4 linked regions of the Homo sapiens genome follow. The protein of the gene in region 1 purifies or fractionates together with the protein of each later gene. This does not show direct contact. Each region holds a gene or a part of one and is shown in the gene's direction. Other genes may lie near its edges.

Region 1 (6,007 bases):
TTTTTTTTGAGACAAGAGTCTCAGTCAGCCACCCAGGCTGGAGTGCAGTGGCATGATCTCGGCTCACTGCAACCACCATCTCCCGGTTTCAAGCGATTCTCCCATCTCAGCCTCCCGAGTAGCTAGGATTACAGGCACCTGCCATCATGCCCGGCTAATTTTTGTATTTTAGTAGAGACAGGGTTTCACCATGTTGGCCAGGCTGGTCTTGAACTCCTGACTTCAGGTGATCCGCCCGCCTCGGCCTCCCAAAGTGCTAGGATTACAGGCGAGAGCCACCGTACCTGGCCTCAACTTACATATTTCTAAGAAAAAGAACATTTTCCTACATAACCACAAAATCATTATGACACTCAGGAGACCTATAATTGATTGATAATATTATCTAAAACACAAGTCACTTCAAAATTTTCCCAACTGACGCACCAGAGTAGCTGGGACTACAGGCACGTATCACCACCCCCAGCTAATTTTTGTATTTTTTGTAGAGACGTGTTTTCACCATGTTACCCCAGCTGGTTTCTGAACTGAGCTCAAGGGATCCACCCACTTCGGCCTCCCAGAGTTCTAGGATTACAGGTGTGTGAGCCACTGCACTCAGCCTGTAGTTGTCTTAATTTAATGTTTCTCTTTCTTTCTTTTCTTTTCTTTCTTTCTCTTTCTTTCTTTTTCTTTCCTTTTTTCTCTTTCTTTTTTTCCTTTTTTTTTTTGAGACAGAGTCTCACTTTATCACCCAGGCTGGAGTGCAGTGGCCTGTTGTCGGCTCACTGCAAACTCCGCCTCCCAGGTTCAAGTGATTCTCCTGCCTCAGCCTCCCAAGTAGCTGAGATTACAGGCACCTGCCACCACACTTGGCTAATTTTTTGTATTTTTACTAGAAACGGGGTTTCACTATGTTGGCCAGGCTGGTCTCAACTCCTGACCTCAAGTGATCCGCCTACCTGGGCCTCCCAAAGTGTTGGTATTACAGGCATGAGCCACCATGCCTGGCCAATTTAATGTTTTTCTATTTTTGTTTTAAAATATTTACCTATTCTGAAGTCCAAAGATATTTTCCTATATTATATTCTGAAGACTTTATAGTTTAGGATTTCACATTTAGGTCTTAATCCAGCTACAATTGATTTTTGTGATGAAATGAGAGATAGAGGTCCTGTTTTCTGTTTTGTTTTTTTTTTTGAGACGGAGTCTCCCTCTGTTGCCCAGGCTGAAGTGCAGTGGTGTGATCTCCGCTCACTGCAACCTCCGCCTCCCGGTTCAAGCGATTCTCCTGCTTCAGCCTCCTGAATAGCTGGGACTACAGGTGTGTGCCACCACACCCAGCTAATTTTTGTACTTTTTAGTAGAGACAGGGTTTCACCATGTTGGCCAGGATGGTCTCGATCTCTTAACCTCGTGATCCGCCCACCTCAGCCTCCCAAAGTGCTGGGATTACAGGCGTGAGCCACCGTGCCCGGCCTTCATATTGTCATAGAACCTTCACTGAATAGACCATCTTTTCTCCATGGCTGTATGATGCCACCTTTGTCATAAATCCAGTTTTCAAGTATGCGTGATAAACCGTAAAGAAAAGCAAAGAGTCAAGTATCTGCTTTTGGTAAAATAAATAAATAAATAAATATAAATAAGAAAAGCAAAGTGTTATAAAAGTCGGGCTAGTGGTTTTCTCAGGAAGTGTATCTGTGAAGAACCTGACACTATTCTTTTTTCGCTCTAATGACTTGGCTGTTCATAATTATACTTATCTTTGGTTTATATTTCAGAATAAAATTGTGTTATATTTATCAATAAAAGGTTAGTTAAAAGTAAGCAAACAGAAAAAAAAAAAGAAATATTGATGAGGGGAGCGCCAGCATCTCTCAAAAGTGAGTTCGTGGTTTTGCTCTCAATGGAAAAGCCGGCGGGAGGTGCTAAGGTGGGGATGCTGAATCCACGGATGGCCAAGCGGAGACGCGGCACTTCACCGGGGGCAGCGAGGGGCCCAGACCTTGCTCGGATTGTCCCGGTGGTAACTGGGAGACCTCGCCAGTGAGGGAAGTTACAGATCAGCTGCGCCCGGAATTAAACGACCCACAGACAACGGCGCAAACAGAGGGACTGACCTGCTTTAGTGAGCTCCCAAAACCTGCTCTCGCATAAGCACACCCTCCTCCGCTCACAGAGACGGATTTCTGCCCCAGCCGCAGCCTCGCGAGGTAGGCGGCGCCGCGAGGGCCTCTGGGAAGGCGGTCCGTGGGCAGCCGCGGGGCACTCTGGGACTGGGCTCTGGGCGGCTTTTTTGCGAGTGGCGGGCCGACTGTGTAGTCCGCTCCGGCAGCGCGCTCTGCCCGGCTTCCTCAGTCTCCTCGCCGGGAGCGTCCGGGAGCAGCTCCGAGGCCGCGGCGAAACCAGGTGGAGTCCGAGGTTCGGAGGAGTATCAGAGGTTAGGGGAAGGCCGGAGAATGGGCTGGGAGGCTGCGTTTCGGAGCTTAGGGTTCTGTCCCTGCGATCGCCGCGTCTCCCTCCCTTGGTGGGCGCGGCTCCCGGGAAGCGGCTCGTCTCGTCTCCCCTCACAGGCCGGGTTCCCGTTCTGGACCTTCGCCCTCGGAACACAGTGCTGTTGGCCGGGACTCCTTCCCGAGGTGGACGGCTCCCTGTTCTTATTCCTGGCTCTGCCAGAACTGTAGGAAGTGCTCAGTACACTTTAGGGCATGCATGGCACTCCCTGGGAGACAGTGCTTTAGGGCCAGAGGAAAGATCTTCCCTGAAGGCAAACGCCCGCGGAGCCCACAAGTCCGGGCCGCACTGAACAAGTCAGGATGTTGCCATCGGCAATTCTGCAGAAGGCAGTAACCCATCTGAGAGAAAGAGCCGCTGTCATAAGGTCTCTTGCTTGAGCTGCTGGGTTGAGAATGGAGCTGGAAGAGGGAACTGATCTCGGAGCTCCTTGGGGATCTTGGTTATGTCTGACCCTTTTACTTTCAGGGAGCAGGGATTGGATCAAGTCATTGCATCTAGAGTACGGGGGAACGAAGAAATCATGGAGAGAGTTTGCCCCAGGAGAGAGGCGAGCGTTATGTAACCTAGGATCTGGGGTGGGTAACAGTCTGTGCAGTGTCAATGTGAGAGGAGAAAACACCCAACGTGAGGGAATGGTCAGGTAAGAAAGGACCAGAAGTTCCGGTTCTACCATAGCAAGGACCTAAGTTGCTAATTTAGGTTCTTTAATGCAGACCTGGTCTTTCAGAACTTCTTTCTCTTCCCTAGCCTTGTCATTTCAGCATTCTGGCCTTCCCTATGAGGAGGAAGATCAACGAAGTCACAGGTGAATAGGAGTTTCTCTTCTAAAGTTTCATCTCCTTTGTCAGGGGGAATCGATACACTCTCTCATCTCTTCCTTGGGGAAAAAGAAGGAGATCTATCTTCATCGAGTGCTAATATGCGTACTATATGTTATCACTCAATGGTCGGATATCTCAGTAGGGTTAGTAGGTATTTTAAAAATGTGTCAGTAACTTCAGGAAAACTAGAACCTTGTCCAAGCTTACTCAAAAGGCAAGTAGCATACTACTAAATGCTACCGAACTACTCAGGATTAGGTTTAGAATCCATATCTGTAGGACTCCCAGACTCTTGGCATTATGCTGTTTCCCAGCATCCCATTCACTTACTACCTAACAATTTTGCCATACCTGTGTACTACCTGTATTATTCTATGTTTTTACTTACTTTTTTTTTTTATAAAAATCAAACTTGTCCTAAGAAACAATATCTGTGAAATTAGCCATTTGATGGCTGCTCCAATAACAGTATAGTTATTCTAAGGTGTATCTAAAAATGTTGGTCCATGTGCTATGTAAAATCGTCTCGTGTCAGACATACAAACTACAATTTGGGACACAATGCACTGCATTATGCTCTCTTCTGGATTCTTTTCTGCGTAGGAAAGTCCCAGACACATCTGAGCATCAGTCATCCATCCCTAGTGTACTGTTTTATTCTTATAGATGAATACTTTCACAGAGAATGCCCTGCTTTGTATCTTCTCCAAAAGACATTTCACTTCCCTGTTTAGAACTACCTGTTCTCAATGTTGTATGTAAAACAAGTAGGAACTCCATACATTTCAGGAGCTTCCTCTCTCTTTGGGGAGTTAATGTGTACACAGGAAATAGTCTAACTCTATGCTGTTCAGTAGAGCTTTCTGTGATCAGGGAATGTTCTGTATCTGTGCCTTATCTGTATCCACCAGCCAGATGTAGCTACTGAGCACTTAATATATGGCTAGTGCAACTGAGATGTGAATTTTATTTTATTTTAATTAAATTTAAGTAGCCACATATGGCTAGTGGCTACTAATGGCTACCATATTGGACAGCCAGGTCTAGATATTTGAAATAAAATATTTTAAGGTTATTGATTTGGACTTGGAGTTCCCCCTCACCCTCACAAATACCTCATAGCATATGTGTTATAAATGCCCTTTAGGGCTGGGTGCGGTGGCTCACGCCTGTAATCACAGCACTTTGGGAGGCCGAGGCGGGTGCATCACGAGGTCAGGAGATCGAGACCATCCTGGCTAACACGATGAAACCCCGTCTCTACTAAAAAATACAAAAATTAGCTGGGCGCGGTGGCGGGTGCCTGTAGTCCCAGCTACTCGGGAGGCTGAGGCAGGAGAATGGCGTGAACCCGGGAGGCAGAGCTTGCAGTGAGCTGAGATCCCGCCACTGCACTCCAGCCTGGGTGAAAGAGTGAGACTCTGTCTCAAAAAATAAAATAAAAGAAAAGAAAAAATAAATGCCCTTTAACTTTAGTTTCTTGGTGAAGGGTAAATATTCTTTCCAATTTTCAGAGACTTCATAGTTGAAATAAAGTTTCTTGAAATTATTTAAAGCACATTGACAGTTTATAACACTTGTGTAAATGCACAGCTTCTGTATTTTGTTACTATTGAAATATCCTGTAAAGCAATAATGTTGTAGGATACTCTATAAGCAAAAGTCTTACTATTGTATTATTTTTATTCATTGCAGATAACTTTTCTTCTAGCTATCTATGTTTTCTTTCATTAGTGACATTTAGACTATTTAAAAATCAGTTAAACACAACCACAACTGATATTAATGACGTTTTCAGGGCATCACTTCTTACGCTTTGACATAGGAGTTGGTGCATTCACCTTATTTCACTGCTTATTAGAATAGCAAGAAGGGGACATTTGGTTCATAGCTATCTCTATCAGCTAAAATTCTATGTCAAATTATTTATTTTCCTGGCACTCAAAGTCAAACACTAATGGACTGGTTGTATCTTGTTTTGCTTACTCTCTATGCAGGTTAGATATGTGGGGTTAGAAGGAAGGCTTAAAAAGAGTATCTTCATAAGATAATTTGCCTAGTTTCTTTTTTCTTTTTTCTTTTTTTTTTTTGAGACGGAGTCTCGCTCTGTTGCCCAGGCTGGAGCACAGTGGTGGGATCTCAGCTCACTGCACGCTCCGCCTCCTGGGTTCACGCCATTCTCCTGCCTCAGCCTCCCAAGTAGCTCGGACTACAGGCACCCACCACCAAGCCCGGCTAATTTTTTGTACTTTTAGTAGAGACAGGTTTCACCGTGTTAGTCAGGATGGTCTCGATCTCCTGACCTCATGATCCGCCCGCCTTGGCCTCCCAAAGTGCTGGGATTACAGGCGTGAACCACTGCGCTTGGCCGCCCAGTTTCTTAAGATTAAAAAATACTTGAAAGACAAAACAATCAAACATAATGTGTGGTCTTTGTTTCCTGGATTAAAGAAAAGCTATCTAGGACATTTTGAGGACAGTTGGGGAAATTTATATATGAACTGGAATGTTAAGGAATTACTAATTTTGTCAGATGTGATAATGTAGTTATGAGGAGAATGTCATTTGGAAGACAGTATTGTGGTTATGAAGAAGAATGCCATTTGGAAATTATGCTGAAACATTTAGATTTTAAAGTTTTATGCTATCTGTAATTTACTTTAAAATAGTTCAGCCAAAACAAAAAA
Region 2 (4,368 bases), on another chromosome or scaffold:
TTTTTCTGTTTCATTTTTTATGGGAAATCCCTCCTTAAACTTAAGGAGAATGTAAACCTAAATACAGATATCAAGGTGTCTTTATTCATTTACCGCTGCTTACATTTTGGAAGTATGTTGATTCTGAGGAAAGAAATCAAGGTGGATCTATCACTAAGAAGTAAAATTGATCCATAATATTTATGTCATGTCATGGTATTTGAAAATGTTATATTACTAAGAGCTTCGATGGCAGTCATTTTTTTTTTCTTTTTCCTTTAAATAGTCATGTTGGAAGCCTCTGCAGAGAACATTTTACAGCAGGACTTTTGCCATGCTATCAAAGTGGGAGTGAAATATACCCAACAAATAATTCAGGGCATTCAGCAGTTGGTAAAAGAAACTGGTGTTACCAAGAGGACACCTCAGAAGTTATTTACCCCTTCGCCAGAGATTGTGAAATATACTCATAAGTAAGAACATCTGTGCAAATGAAAATATGAAATTGTCATCAGATTTAATTTCCTCGTGGGAGAGAAACTTCCCATGGAAGCACTGCCCATGCATTACTTCATAAATAGCACTTTTCTGTTTTAAGAGTCATTCCCATAAATATCTGCTTACTCCCTTAAAAAGGATAAGCCCACATCACTCTTGTAAGACCTAACTTTGAATCTCAAATGAAAGAGTGTGTTTATTGGTCAAGATTCAGGTAAGCACCACATCTCTCCACGTCTAGGAAAAAGAATAAAACGTTAAGATATTTGAATATCTAAGGAAACTGTTGGAATTCTCAAAAAGAAATCAGAGGTAATCACTGTTACATGCCCAGTGCTTAGAACGTTAGGCAGACACTCAGTAAATGTAAATGAATCACTGGAAAATTATTTTATTTGAAAAAATTGAAAAGGTTAATACTTTCCCTTAATGTCAGTTGCACAGCCATGAGTTGGAAATTAAATTAACTCTTTCTAGCAAAAGAGTTTCATGTGATAATGGAGCCAAAATGGGTAGAATGAAGAAAGGAAGAGGTTAAAAAGAATATATGAAAGGTGAAATTAATTGAACAATTAAGAAGAAAAGAACAGGATACTACATGTGGTTTCCCCTGGGAGGGTGGGAGAAAGAAATTTGTGTTCTATACCATAAATAGTAAACAGATTAGCAATGATAAATAGCAATATAAATTTTCAATTCTTTCTGAAGTATTTATTAAAGTTTTAGCTGATTATTATTAAATATTTCAGTTTTGTTTATAATAGAAACTGCCTCTTGTTTCCAGATATTATTATGCTAACATTTATTTTCTGCTTAAATAGACTTGCTATGGAGAGACTCTATGCAGTTTTTACAGATTACGAGCATGACAAAGTAGGTATACCTGAGTTTTGTCTTCCATAATTGCCCTAGGAATACATTTTTGTCATAACTCATGTAATTTTCTTTATGAATGCTAGTCCTATTTTTATTAAAAATCTCTAAATGAAAAACTAACAAAAGCCTAATTGTTTCTCCATTCTTTTGTTTTGTTTTGTTTTTGAGACAGAGTCTCTCTCTGTCGCCCAGGCTGGTGTGCAGTGGCATGATCTCAGCTCACTGCAACTTTCGCCTTCCAGCGATTCTCATGCCTCAGCCTCCCAAGTAGCTGGGATTACAGGTGCACGCCACCACACTCAGCTATCTTTTGTATTTTTAGTAGAGACGGCCATGTTGGCCAGGCTGGTCTCAAACTCCTGGCCTCAAGTGATCTGCCCACCTTGGCCACCCAAAGTTCTTTTCTTTTTAATATAAGTTTTAGGGGAGTGTACAAATGTATTTGAATGAATTAACATGTAGTATTTGTCATAAATCAAGAACCAATTCCAATATTTTAAAGAATATTAAAGAAATCAGAGTAATTCACAATGTGTTCATTGTATAATAATTAGAAAACAGAAATATTAAATGTTGTCATGTATATGTAATAACTGAACCTCAACTTTCTTTTAGGTTTCCAGAGATGAAGCTGTTAACAAAATAAGATTAGATACGGAGGAACAACTAAAAGGTAAATTTTATTTTATTTTATTTTATTTTTTTGCTGAGGGCAGCTTTAATAAGGCATGGCCTGACTCTTGCTTCTTGGGATTAAAGGTCAAAGAGGAAAGGCATCACATCTGTAGGAAAAGAAGAATTCAAAGGACTTTCAACTTTACAGCTGCTGTTCCCTAGACCTAGAATGCTCTCTCATAGCAGGTGGTCTTCTTCTAACCCAAGGTTCAAATGCCACCTCTTCTCCAAAGCTTCCCCGAACTGTTTCGGGGAAAGAGAAAGTCCCCTTTGCACAGAACCGCTATTACTATGTATTTTTTAATTTTAAAAGCATTAAAAGAAATAATAGACTTTTTTTTTTTTTAACTTTAGTTGAAGATCTCAAATAAATGTTACTCTCATTGCTTCTCAGCTTTATTTTCAATAAACTTGTAATAATGATAGCTCACAAGGTTACTGCTAAATTAACTTCTATGAATGTAGCTAGCACTACATTTGATGCAGAGTAGGTACCTAGTAAATGTTGAATGTGAATGTTCCTGATCTTTTCTGAATCAAACTCCTACCATACAAGAAATGTAACCTGGTATCTTATCATTTGAAAACCCAAATATATTCTTTAAAATTCTTGAGTTCTTGATCTGTGAAATTGCAGTGTTAATAATACCTGGTTTATGGGGATTAAATGAGTGAATCATTTACATCTGTGCCTGCCACACCGTAAGTGTTCAATAAATGTTAACTGATGCTATTCTTAATACCTAGTGGAATCATAAGATACAGAACTTAGGTAATTTAGCTCTCCAGAAATTATTAAGCAAAGGATCTTACTGTATAATATCAACCTCTGGCCAGGCGCGGTGGCTCACGCCTGTAATCCCAGCACTTTGGGCGGCCGAGGCAGACAGATCACGAGGTCAAGAGATCGAGACCATCCTGGCTAATACGGTGAAACCCTGTCTCTACTAAAAATACAAAAAGTTAGCCGGGCGTGGTGGCGGGCACCTGTGGTCCCAGCTACCCAGGAGGCTGAGGCAGGAGAATGGCGTGAACCCAGGAGGTGGAGCTTGCAGCGAGTCGAGATCGCGCCACTGCACTCCAGCTTGGGCAACGGAGCGAGACTCTGTCTCAAAAAAATAAATAAATAAATAAAAATAATAGTAATAATACCAACCTCACACAAACTGAATATAAATGAAGTATGACATAGTTTTTGTTAATTTTTCTAATAGACAAATATACTCTCACATGAATATTTATTTTAAGATAAAAAACTGGCCAGGCGTGGTGGCTCATGCCTGTAATCCCAGCACTTTGGGAAGCCAAAGTGGGTGGATCACTTGAGATCAGGAGTTCAAGACCAGCCTGGCCAATATGGTGAAACCCCATCTCTACCAAAAATACAAAAATTAGGCGGGCATGGTGGCAGGCTCCTGTAATCCCAGCTACTTGGGAGGCTGAGGCATGAGAATCACTTGAACCTGTTAGGCAGAGGTTGTAGTGAGCTGAGACCGCCACTGCACTCCAGCCTGGGCAATAGAGCAAGACTCCATCTCAAAAAAAAAAAAAAAAGTGCTGTTAGCATTGATATTAAGGCCATTAATTGTAACTGTCATTGAATATGTTTAGTCCTTTCTCACTACATTTCATCCTATTTGGTAAGAAAGAAATTTTATAGCGAATATTGTCTTATTTTAAAAGAATAGTGACTTTTTGTTTGTATTATACATAGTAGAATATCTTCACGACCCTCTGGGTTGATAGGATATTTTAAACATTTTGGTACTGATTGTTTTCCTTTCCAAGTACAACTCAGTTAAGCAGAAAAGATATTAAAGTCTAATATTAAAAATTATTCTTTTCTGAAGAAGATACAATCTAATATATCTTTCTGTGACCATTTCTTGTGTTTTGGTTACTTTGAAGTTATGTTTAATAAACCATACACATGAGAGAATAGTACTTAAAACTTGGCATAAATTAATTGATAGGGTAGAATAGCTTAACATCTAAACCCTAAGCTAAAAATAAAATAAAATAAAACCATAAGCCTTTGAGGCTGACAGATCTTTATTCAGGTCACAGCTGTATCAGTTACTACCTGTGTGGTCTCAGGCAGTTTACTCCACCTCTTTATTTTTTATTTATGTTTTTTTTTAAACTCAGTGGTTATCTCTTACACAGTACTTCACCCCTTTAAGCCTCAGTTTTTTCTTCTGTAGAATGGGAATCATAAAATTTAGTTCATAAGTTATTATGAAAGTTAAAAGCATTAAAAAACCAATAAAGTGCCTGGCTCATGAAAGCATTTGACAAATATTAGATAGAAAACAGTTTGTAGGGATTTCTAATATATTT
Region 3 (4,368 bases), on another chromosome or scaffold:
GCCTGGCCTTGGTCCCCTGGCATGTCATGTGGCTGGCAGGCTTCCATCACCCCTTTCCCAAGTCCATTAACTCCTGTCTGTGTTTAGGGAGCTCATAAAGGGAATCTGCGTGAAGGACAGGAATGAAAATGAGATTGGTCATTCCCGGGTGAGCAGAGGCCTCCCTTTGGGGTGGGAGGAGGGAATTCCCTCTCATACCCTGTCCCCTCCTTAGTGGTCAGAGTAGGCACCAATATAGGATTGAGAAGCCTTTTCTGGCTCCATCCTCACTCCCTATCAAATTTTCCCCATGTTTCTCTGTTCAGAACAGGCCCCTTCTCTCTTTTCTCCATCATTTCTGGTCCATAAAAACCTGGCTAGGTGGGAGGGGATAAAGTGAGGTCACTCAGCAACTGGAGGGTCCTTCCCTTCCCCTTTACCATCTCAGACTTGGCCATGATGCTGACCCAGCCCCCTGGTGCAGCACATGTACACTGGATACATCATTTCTGACAACTTACTATTTTCTGCCCTCAGAGAGCTGCGGCCATAGGCATCACCCAAGTAGTTATTTCTCGGATCACCATGTCAGCTCCTGGGATGAGTAAGATGGGGAAGCCCTTCCATCCTGGGGAAGCCTGTGACACAGGGTGGAGGTCTCAGCCACACTCAGCTTTTGGGTGGGAGGTGGGGCCCACCTTCTACAGCCATGCTTCTCAAACTGCTTTGCTTGATTGCTGTAAGCCTAGAAGAACCACACTAGTTCCTAGAACATCAGTTCATCCAAGGTTTGGGGTAGAAAGTTATTTTCATTTTATTAATACTTGTCAAGCCCTTGTGTTTAATGTTAGACACAGTGTGGGGTGCTAGGGAGAGTGATAGAGAAAATAAATTCCCTGCTTTGGTTTGCTTCCAGCAGTGGGTGTATTGCAAAATTTGTTTGCACGAACGTACAAATACATTTTTGAGTTTTGAGAAGGTAGCTTTGGACCTAGCAGCACATGTTTTCCTGATATTGCAAGTGTGCAGGTTGAGAAGCTTGGGAAGCACTGTTCTGCCAGGACTTTGGGGAGAAAGTTTGGGGGTGGTCATGCCTACTTGCTCTTCTGTTCTGCCTAGTGGTAAGTATTTTCTGGAGCTTCTGCTGAAGGAGAGGGAACCACTTGGTTCCTGGTCTGACTTCAGAAGGAGTCCTGGGGAGAGCCTCCCAGCCCTCCCCTCAGCTTCTCCCTGGTCTCTTCCAGTCTTGCTGCCAGTCATCATGGAAAGGCTTGAGAAATTGCACTTCATGCAGGTATGTAGGGTTTGCTTTGGCATTTTCCCTGCCCAGAGTGCGTCCAGCCACATCTGTCCCTAGGGATACCTGACCTGCCCTCCCCCACCCATCCTTCCCTTTAGCTACCATGCTGTCATCTCACTCAAGCCCACACCAATCTCCACTGACCTCCTGTTTAGATATACCATGGCCAGTTTCCTTACCTGGTCTGCAGAGAACAAGGCCTTCTTTAAGGGCCAGGGGGTCCTTGCCTGTGGGTTTTTCTTTTTTCTTTTGAGATGGAGTCTCGCTCTGTCGCCCAGGCTGGAGTGCAGTGGCGCGATCTTGGCTCACTGCAAGCTCCGCTTCCTGGGTTCATGCCATTCTCCTGCCTCAGCCTCCCGAGCAGCTGGGACTACAGGTGCCTGCCACCACGCCCAGCTATTTTTTTTGTATTTTTAGTAGAGACGGGTTTTCACTGTGTTAGCCAGGATGGTCTCGATCTCCTGACCTTGTGATCTGCCCATCTCGGTCTCCCAAAGTGCTGGGATTACAGGCATGAGCCACTGCGCCCAGCCACCTGTGGGCTTTTCTAGCTGGCTGATCCATGGCAGAGCAGGGTTGGGGTTCACCTTAAGGCATAGAAGTACCATGTGGATCTGTCTTTTATTTGTTTTTATACAGAAAGTCAAGGTCCTGCACGCCCCATTGCAGGTCATGCTGAGCGGGTGCTTGTAAGTATCATATTTTGATGATTTGGGTTCTGCGTGGCTGGAGCACTCAAGATGTGTCGTCTTGTCTAGCCCGTGTTGGAGAACGTGTACTCCTTTACCTGACTTTAAAAGTGGTCAAGCTCAGAATACCTGTGGTCCATCTGGAAAGCTCTCACCCCATCTTTTGTGAGGGCATCAGGCTGGCTAGACTTTATGCACGTGTCCATGTAGGAAGTCCAGTGCTGAGGTGCCCTCCCATCCCAGGGTCTCTCCTTTGACCTTAAGTCTGGAGCAATTTTTTTGTTTTTTGCTTTTTTTTTTTTGAGATGGAGTCTCGCTCTGTCGCCCAGTCTGGAGTGCAATGGCGCAGCCTCAGCTCGCTGCAACCTCCACCTCCCAGGTTCAAGCAATGCTCCTGCCTCAGCCTCCTGAGTAGCTGGGATTACAGGCACGCACCATGATGCCTTGCTAATTTTTGTATTTCATCATGTTGGCCAGGCTGGTCTCGAACTCCTGACCTCAAGTGATCCACCTGCCTCGGCCTCCCAAATTGCTGGGATTATAGGCATGAGCCACTGCGCCTGGCTGTCTGGAGCAGTTTTACAGAAGAGATAAGAACGAGGAGACATAGCTTTGGCTGGGACTGTCATGTGTCCCAGACTCACACAGGAGGGAAATGCCACCAGTCACGTCAGGGTTCTTAGGTATCTGCCATTAACTGGAGATGTCCTAGCGTTCACCATGCATTTCAGGGCCACGAGACTAATGACAGCATCACTAACAGCTAACACTGACTGTATATTTTCTCTGTGTCCCCACTGAACCCAGTGTTTCATATCTATAATTTCACTTAATTCTCCCAGCCTTAGAAATCTACATATTATTATCATCTCCTTTTACAAATGAAGAAACTGAGACTTAGACAGAGTAAGAAACTTGCCCAAGGGTATATAGCTGGTAACTGCTGGAGCTGAGATTTGATCAACAGTCTAACATTATGCTATACCAACTTCTGCTAATTGAGTAGTTACCATGGGCTGGGTGCTTTACATACATATCTCATTGAATCCTCACAGTAACCCTGCAAAGTAGGCACTGCAAAGTGGTCTGCAGTAGCCCTAAAAAGTAGGTTGTCCTCCCTCTGTGTCTCTGAGGTAACTTGTCCAAGATGGCACAGCTAGTAAGTGGTAAAACTGGGATACCAACCCAGGTCTGTCAGAGTCCCGCGTCCTGTAAGACCTTGCCTCCCAAACCCTGGTCCATGCCAGCATCGTTGGCATCCTCTGATAACTTGTTAGAAGTAAAGACTCTGAAGTCCTTCCCCAGACCCCCTCAGTTGGCACCTGGCATTTTAATAAGCTCCTGAAGTTATATGCACAGTGAAGCTGGAGAAACTGCCTTTCACTGTGCTCTGACAGCCCAGGTGTTCAACCAATAAAGAAGCAGGTCTCAGAATCCACAGACTCACTCCTCCCCCTCCATAGTGCCCCTCCCCCACTCCAAAGTGCCCCTCCCCATCCTGGTCACTCCTCCCGATACAAGTCAATCCTCCCCCTCCAAGTTGCTCCTCTCCCTCCTCATCCCTCCTCCCCTCTGTGTCCTTCCTCCCTCTCCATGTTGCTCCTCCCCTCCATGTCCTTCTCCCTCTCCATGTTGCTCCTCCCTGTCCAAGTAGTTCTTCCTACTCCAAGTAGTTCCTTCCCTCCAAGTCACTCCTCCCCCTTCAAGTCGCTCCTCCCCATCCAAGTTGCTCCTCAACCTCCAAGTCATTCTTCCCTCTCCAAGTCGCTCCCCACCCTCCATGCTGTTCCTCCAAGTTGCTCCTGTCCCTCCATGTCGCTCCTCCCCCTCCATGTCCCTCCTCTCCCTCCATGATGCTCCTCCCCTCCATGTCGCTCTTCCCCCTCCATGTTGCTCCTCCCCCTCCAAGTTTCTCCTCTCCCTCCTCGTCGCTCCTTTCGCTCGATGCCAGCAGTGCCTGTGCTCCTTAGGCCTGCTGCTCACAGTCCCTGTTTACTTCATTGTCTTCTTCCTCTGCTTGAACAATGCAGTAAGGGTGGGAATGAGTGATGGGGGTCAGGAGGGTACTGGTTTTATCCCCCTGCCAGAATGAGTATCCTCGCACTGCGGGAACAGGAGGAGGGTTGGAGGGAGAGGATATGGTGCCAGCTGGGAAGGCAGGCCAGGTGCCTGGGCATTGCTCCTTTCCCTTGGGGATGGGGGATGGACGGGCCTGTGGGGAGATGTCCCCTGATGCTTTGGTTTCTCCTTTCTTGCAGCCTCATCTTCATGGTGCCAGTGGCGTGTGGGCTTTTCCCACAGAAATGGTATCTGCTGTTCATTCCTTACTTGGTTTAATTGACCATGCTGCCAGCGCGCTCCCTGATCTGCCTGCTGTCCAGAAGGAGACAGGGAAGGGGC
Region 4 (4,368 bases), on another chromosome or scaffold:
GTTAAGTATATTCACATTGTTGTTCAACAGATCTCTAGAACTTTTTCATCTTGCAAAACTGAAACTCTGTACCCATTGAACAACTGCCCATTCCCGCCCCAACCCAGCTGTCCTTGACAACCACTATTCTACTTTCTGTTTCTAGGAATTTGACCACTTTATACTTTGTGTCAGTGAGTCATATAGTATTTGTATTTTTGTGGTTGGCTTATTTCACTTATAATGTCTATAATGTTTATATTATCTTTACCTTTTCTTTTTTTTTTGAGACGGAGTCCTGCTCTGTCACCTAGGCTAGAGTGTAGTGGTGTGATCTTGGCTCACTGCAACCTCTGCCTCCGAGGTTCAAGTGATTCTCTTGCCTCAGCCTCCCAAGCAGCTGGGACTACAGGCGCGTGCACCATGCCTGGCTAATTTTTCCATTTTTAGTAGAGATGGTTTTTTTTTTTTTTAACCATGTTGGCCCGCTGGTCTCGAACTCCTGACCTCAGGTGATCTGCCCGCCTTGGCCTCTGAAAGTGCTGGGATTACAGGTGTGAGCCACTGCGCCTGGCCTATATTATCTCTAAATGTAAAGATATATTCTTTACGTTTAAAGAGGTATGGTCTTTACATCTGTCAATGGACATTTTGGTTGCTTTTACCTCTTGACTATTGTGAAACATGCTATAATTAACTTGAGTGTACAGATACCTCTTGGAGATCCTGTTTTTAATTATTTTGGATATATGCCCAGAAGTGGGGATTGCTAGATCATATGGTAGTCTATTTTTAATTTTTTGAAGAGCTTTCATACTGTTTTCCATTGTGGCTCATCATTTTACAATCCCACAAACGGTGTACAAGGTTTTCAGTTTCTCCACGCCCTCATCAACACTTGTTATTTTCTGTTTCTTTGATATGGGCTATCCTTATGAGTGTGAGGTGATATGTCATTGTGGTTTTGGTTTGCATTTTTCTAATGATTAAGGAAGTCAAGCATCTTTTCACATGCATGTTGGCCATTTAAAAATCTTTGGAGAAATGTCTGTTCAAGTCCTTTTTCCATTTTTAATTGAGTTTTGTTGTTGTTGGCCTGTAGGAGTTCTTTATGGATTCCAGATATTAATCCCTTGTGAGATATAGAATTTTCAATATATTGTCTCCTATTCTGTAGCTGGCCTTTTTACACTATTGATCATGTCCTTTGATATATATTGTTTTTAGTTTCGTTAAGGCCCATTTGTCTACTTTTGCTTTTGTTTGCCTCTGCTTTTGGTGTTATATTCAAGAAATCATTGCTAAATCCAGTGTCATGAAGCTTTTCCCTATGTTTTCTTCTAGGAGTTTTATATTGGGTCTTACATTTAGGTCTTTAACAGATTTTGAGTTAATTTTTTTTATATGGTATAAGATAGGGGTTCAGCTTCATTATTTTCCATATGGATATCTAGTTTTTCCATTACCATTTGTTGAAGAGACTGTCATTTCCCCATTGCGTGGTCTTGGCATCCCTATTGAAGATCATTTGACCATATAGATGAGGATTTATTTCTGGGCTTTCTGTTGTTCATTAGTCTATATATCTGTATTTATGCCAATACCACACTGTTTTGATTACTATTGCTTTGTAATATATTTTAAATTTAGTACATATAAGACTTCCATCCTTGTTCTTTTTCAAGATTGTTTTGGATGTTTGGGGATTTCTTGAGATTCCATATGAATTTTGGGATGTTTTTTCTATTTTTGCAAAAAATGCCATTGGGATTGCATTGAATCTGTACATTGTTTTGTAGAATAGACATTTGAACAATATTAAGTCTTCTAATTTATGAACACGGGATGTCTTTTTATTGTACTCTTTAATTTCTTTCAGCAGTGTTTTGTTTTTAGCGTATAAGTCTTTTACCTACTTGCTTAAGTTTATTCCTAAGTATTTTATTCTTTTGATGCAATTGTTAATGGGATTGTGTTCTTAATTTCCTTTTCAGATTGTTCATTCTTAGGATATAGAAATATAACTGATTTTTGTGTGTTGTGTATCCTACAACTTTGCTGAATTTATTAGTTCTAACAGCTTTTTTTTTTGGTGTAGAATCTTTAGGGTTTCTACATATAAGATATGTCATCTGTGAATAGAGATAATTTTACTTCTTCCTTTCCAGTTTGGATGCCTTTATTTCTTTTTCTTGCCTCATTGCTCTGGCTAGAACTTCCTGTGCTATGTTGAGTAGAAGTGATGAGTGGACATCTTTGTCTTATTCCTGATCTTAGAAGAAAAACTTCCAGTATTTCAAAATTGGGTATGATGTTAGCTGTGGGCTCATCATAAATGACCTTTATTATGCTGTGATACTTTTCCTTTTGTTGCCCTCCCTCCGTTTTTTTTTTTGCCTATATATCCCCAACCTTTTCACAGAACAGTGCTCACATTCTTTATACCAAACTTGTTTTTACCCTGAGAAGATCTTACCCTGTAGTCTTCTTGAGTGGAAGCTGCCTTGTCCTTTCTTTCTTCTTCTTCTTTTTTTTTTCCCCCATCAGGTCATTTTATTATTATGGTTTTTACAAATTTTGTTTTATTTTAATAGTTTTTGGGGAACAGGTGGTGGTTTGTGGTTACATAGATAAGTTCTTTAGTGGTGATTTCTGAGATATTGGTGCACCCGTTACCCGAGCAGCGTACACTGTACCCAGTGTGTAGTCTTTTATTCCTCACCCCACTCCCACCTTTCCCCCTGAGTCCCCAAAGTCCCTTATATCATTCTCATGCCTTTGTGCCCTCATAGCTTAGCTCTCACTTATAAATGAGAATATATGATATTTGGCTTTCCATTCCTGAGTTACTTCGCTTAGAGTAATGGTCTCCAACTCCATCCAGGTTGCTGCAAGTGCCATTCTTTCTTTTTTTTTTTTTTTTTTTGAGCCGGAGTCTCGCTCTGTCGCCCAGGCTGGAGTGCAGTGGCACGATCTCGGCTCACTGCAAGCTCCGCCTCCCGGCTTCATGCCATTCTGCCTCAGCCTCCCAAGTAGCTGGGACTACAGGTGCCTGCCACCGCACCCAGCTAATTTTTTGTATTTTTAGTAGAGACGGGGTTTCATCGTGTTAGCCAGGATGGTCTCGATCTCCTGACCTCGTGATCCGCCCGCCTCGGCCTCCCAACATGCTGGGATTACAGGCGTGAGCCACCGCGCCCGGCCCATTATTTCAGTTTATTTTATGGCTGAGTAGTATTCCATGGTGTATATATACCACATTTTCTTTAGCCACTTGTTGGTTGATGGGCATTTAGGTTGGTTCCATATTTCTGCAATTGCAAATTTTGCTGCTATAAACATGCATATGCAAGTGTCTTTTTCATATAATGACTTATTTTCCTTTGGGTAGATACCCAGTAGTGGGATTGCTGGATTTAATGGTAGTTCCGCTTTTAGTTATTTAAGGAATCTCCATACTGTTTTCCATAGTGGTTGTATTAATTTACATTCCCACCAGCAGCGTAAGTGTTCCCTTTTCACCATATCCATGCCAACATCTGTTATTTTTTAATTTTTTAATTGTGGCCATTCTTGCAGGAGTAAGGTGGTATCTCATTATTTTTTTTAATTTGCATTTCCCTGATGATTAGTGATATTGAGATTTTTTTCATATACTTCTTGGCCATCTGTATATCTTTTGAGAATTGTCTATTCATGTCCTTAGGCCACTTTTTGATGGAATTATTTTTTTTTTCTTGCTGATTTGTTTGAGTTCCTCTGTGGTGGAGTGCCAGTAGGGAACAAGGACCTCTTCTCCAAGGCCCTATGTGATCACAGAGGCTGCCTGCCTATTGGGGTTTAGGTGCAACTTTCCCTACTGTGTCCAGTGCTGCAATTTTGTCTCTGCTGTGAGAAACTACCCACAAGCAGAAGGATCTGGAACTCAAGGCCTGCTCTTCAGATTCTTTTGTCCCATGAGGCGATATCTTGATGTGGTGCTCTCCTGCTCCTCCTAGGGATGGGGCTTCCTGAGAACCAAAGTGCAGTGATTGTTACTGGTCTTCTGGATCTAGCCATCCAGCAGGGATAGCGGGCTCTAGGCTGGTGCTGGGGAATGTCTGAAAAGAGTCCTGTGATGTAATCCATATTCAGGTCTCTCAGCCATGGGTACCAGCACCTGCTGTGGTGGAGGTGGCAGGGGAATGATGTAGACTCTGTGAGGATCCTTGGCTATAGATAGGTTTAGTGTGCTGGCTTTCTTGAATGCTGGTTATGCAAGCGGTGAAGTTGTCACATGGATAGACTCAGGACCTTTGGTTAGCCAGGATGTTGCAGGCAGTGGTATTAGCTGTTGTTTTCTCCTTCTCGGGAGCAGTGTTACTCTGTCATGAGTTGCGGTAATGTCCT

The links.
Region 2: the proteins of EXO5 (region 1) and PNPT1 purify together in Homo sapiens (affinity purification with mass spectrometry, with the first as the bait; one study listed by BioGRID). This does not show direct contact.
Region 3: the proteins of EXO5 (region 1) and SFXN2 purify together in Homo sapiens (affinity purification with mass spectrometry, with the first as the bait; one study listed by BioGRID). This does not show direct contact.
Region 4: the proteins of EXO5 (region 1) and AGK purify together in Homo sapiens (affinity purification with mass spectrometry, with the first as the bait; one study listed by BioGRID). This does not show direct contact.

What each region holds. Positions count from the first base shown.
Region 1 is NC_000001.11:40,506,487-40,512,493, forward strand, and holds the start of EXO5 (exonuclease V), read left to right. Parts: upstream 1-2,280; 5' UTR 2,281-2,422; exon of another isoform or gene 2,423-2,863; intron 2,864-2,964; 5' UTR 2,965-3,139; exon of another isoform or gene 3,140-3,246; 5' UTR 3,247-3,304; intron 3,305-6,007. UniProt on the Homo sapiens protein: Single-stranded DNA (ssDNA) bidirectional exonuclease involved in DNA repair. Probably involved in DNA repair following ultraviolet (UV) irradiation and interstrand cross-links (ICLs) damage.
Region 2 is NC_000002.12:55,668,977-55,673,344, reverse strand, and holds part of PNPT1 (polyribonucleotide nucleotidyltransferase 1, mitochondrial precursor), read left to right. Parts: intron 1-265; coding exon 266-452; intron 453-1,298; coding exon 1,299-1,350; intron 1,351-1,968; coding exon 1,969-2,026; intron 2,027-4,368. UniProt on the Homo sapiens protein: RNA-binding protein implicated in numerous RNA metabolic processes. Catalyzes the phosphorolysis of single-stranded polyribonucleotides processively in the 3'-to-5' direction. Mitochondrial intermembrane factor with RNA-processing exoribonulease activity.
Region 3 is NC_000010.11:102,731,636-102,736,003, forward strand, and holds part of SFXN2 (sideroflexin-2), read left to right. Parts: intron 1-87; coding exon 88-148; exon of another isoform or gene 149-172; intron 173-516; coding exon 517-583; intron 584-1,223; coding exon 1,224-1,273; intron 1,274-1,918; coding exon 1,919-1,968; exon of another isoform or gene 1,969-1,973; intron 1,974-4,226; coding exon 4,227-4,274; intron 4,275-4,368. UniProt on the Homo sapiens protein: Mitochondrial amino-acid transporter that mediates transport of serine into mitochondria. Involved in mitochondrial iron homeostasis by regulating heme biosynthesis.
Region 4 is NC_000007.14:141,557,910-141,562,277, forward strand, and holds part of AGK (acylglycerol kinase, mitochondrial isoform 1 precursor), read left to right. Parts: intron 1-4,368. UniProt on the Homo sapiens protein: Lipid kinase that can phosphorylate both monoacylglycerol and diacylglycerol to form lysophosphatidic acid (LPA) and phosphatidic acid (PA), respectively. Does not phosphorylate sphingosine. Phosphorylates ceramide.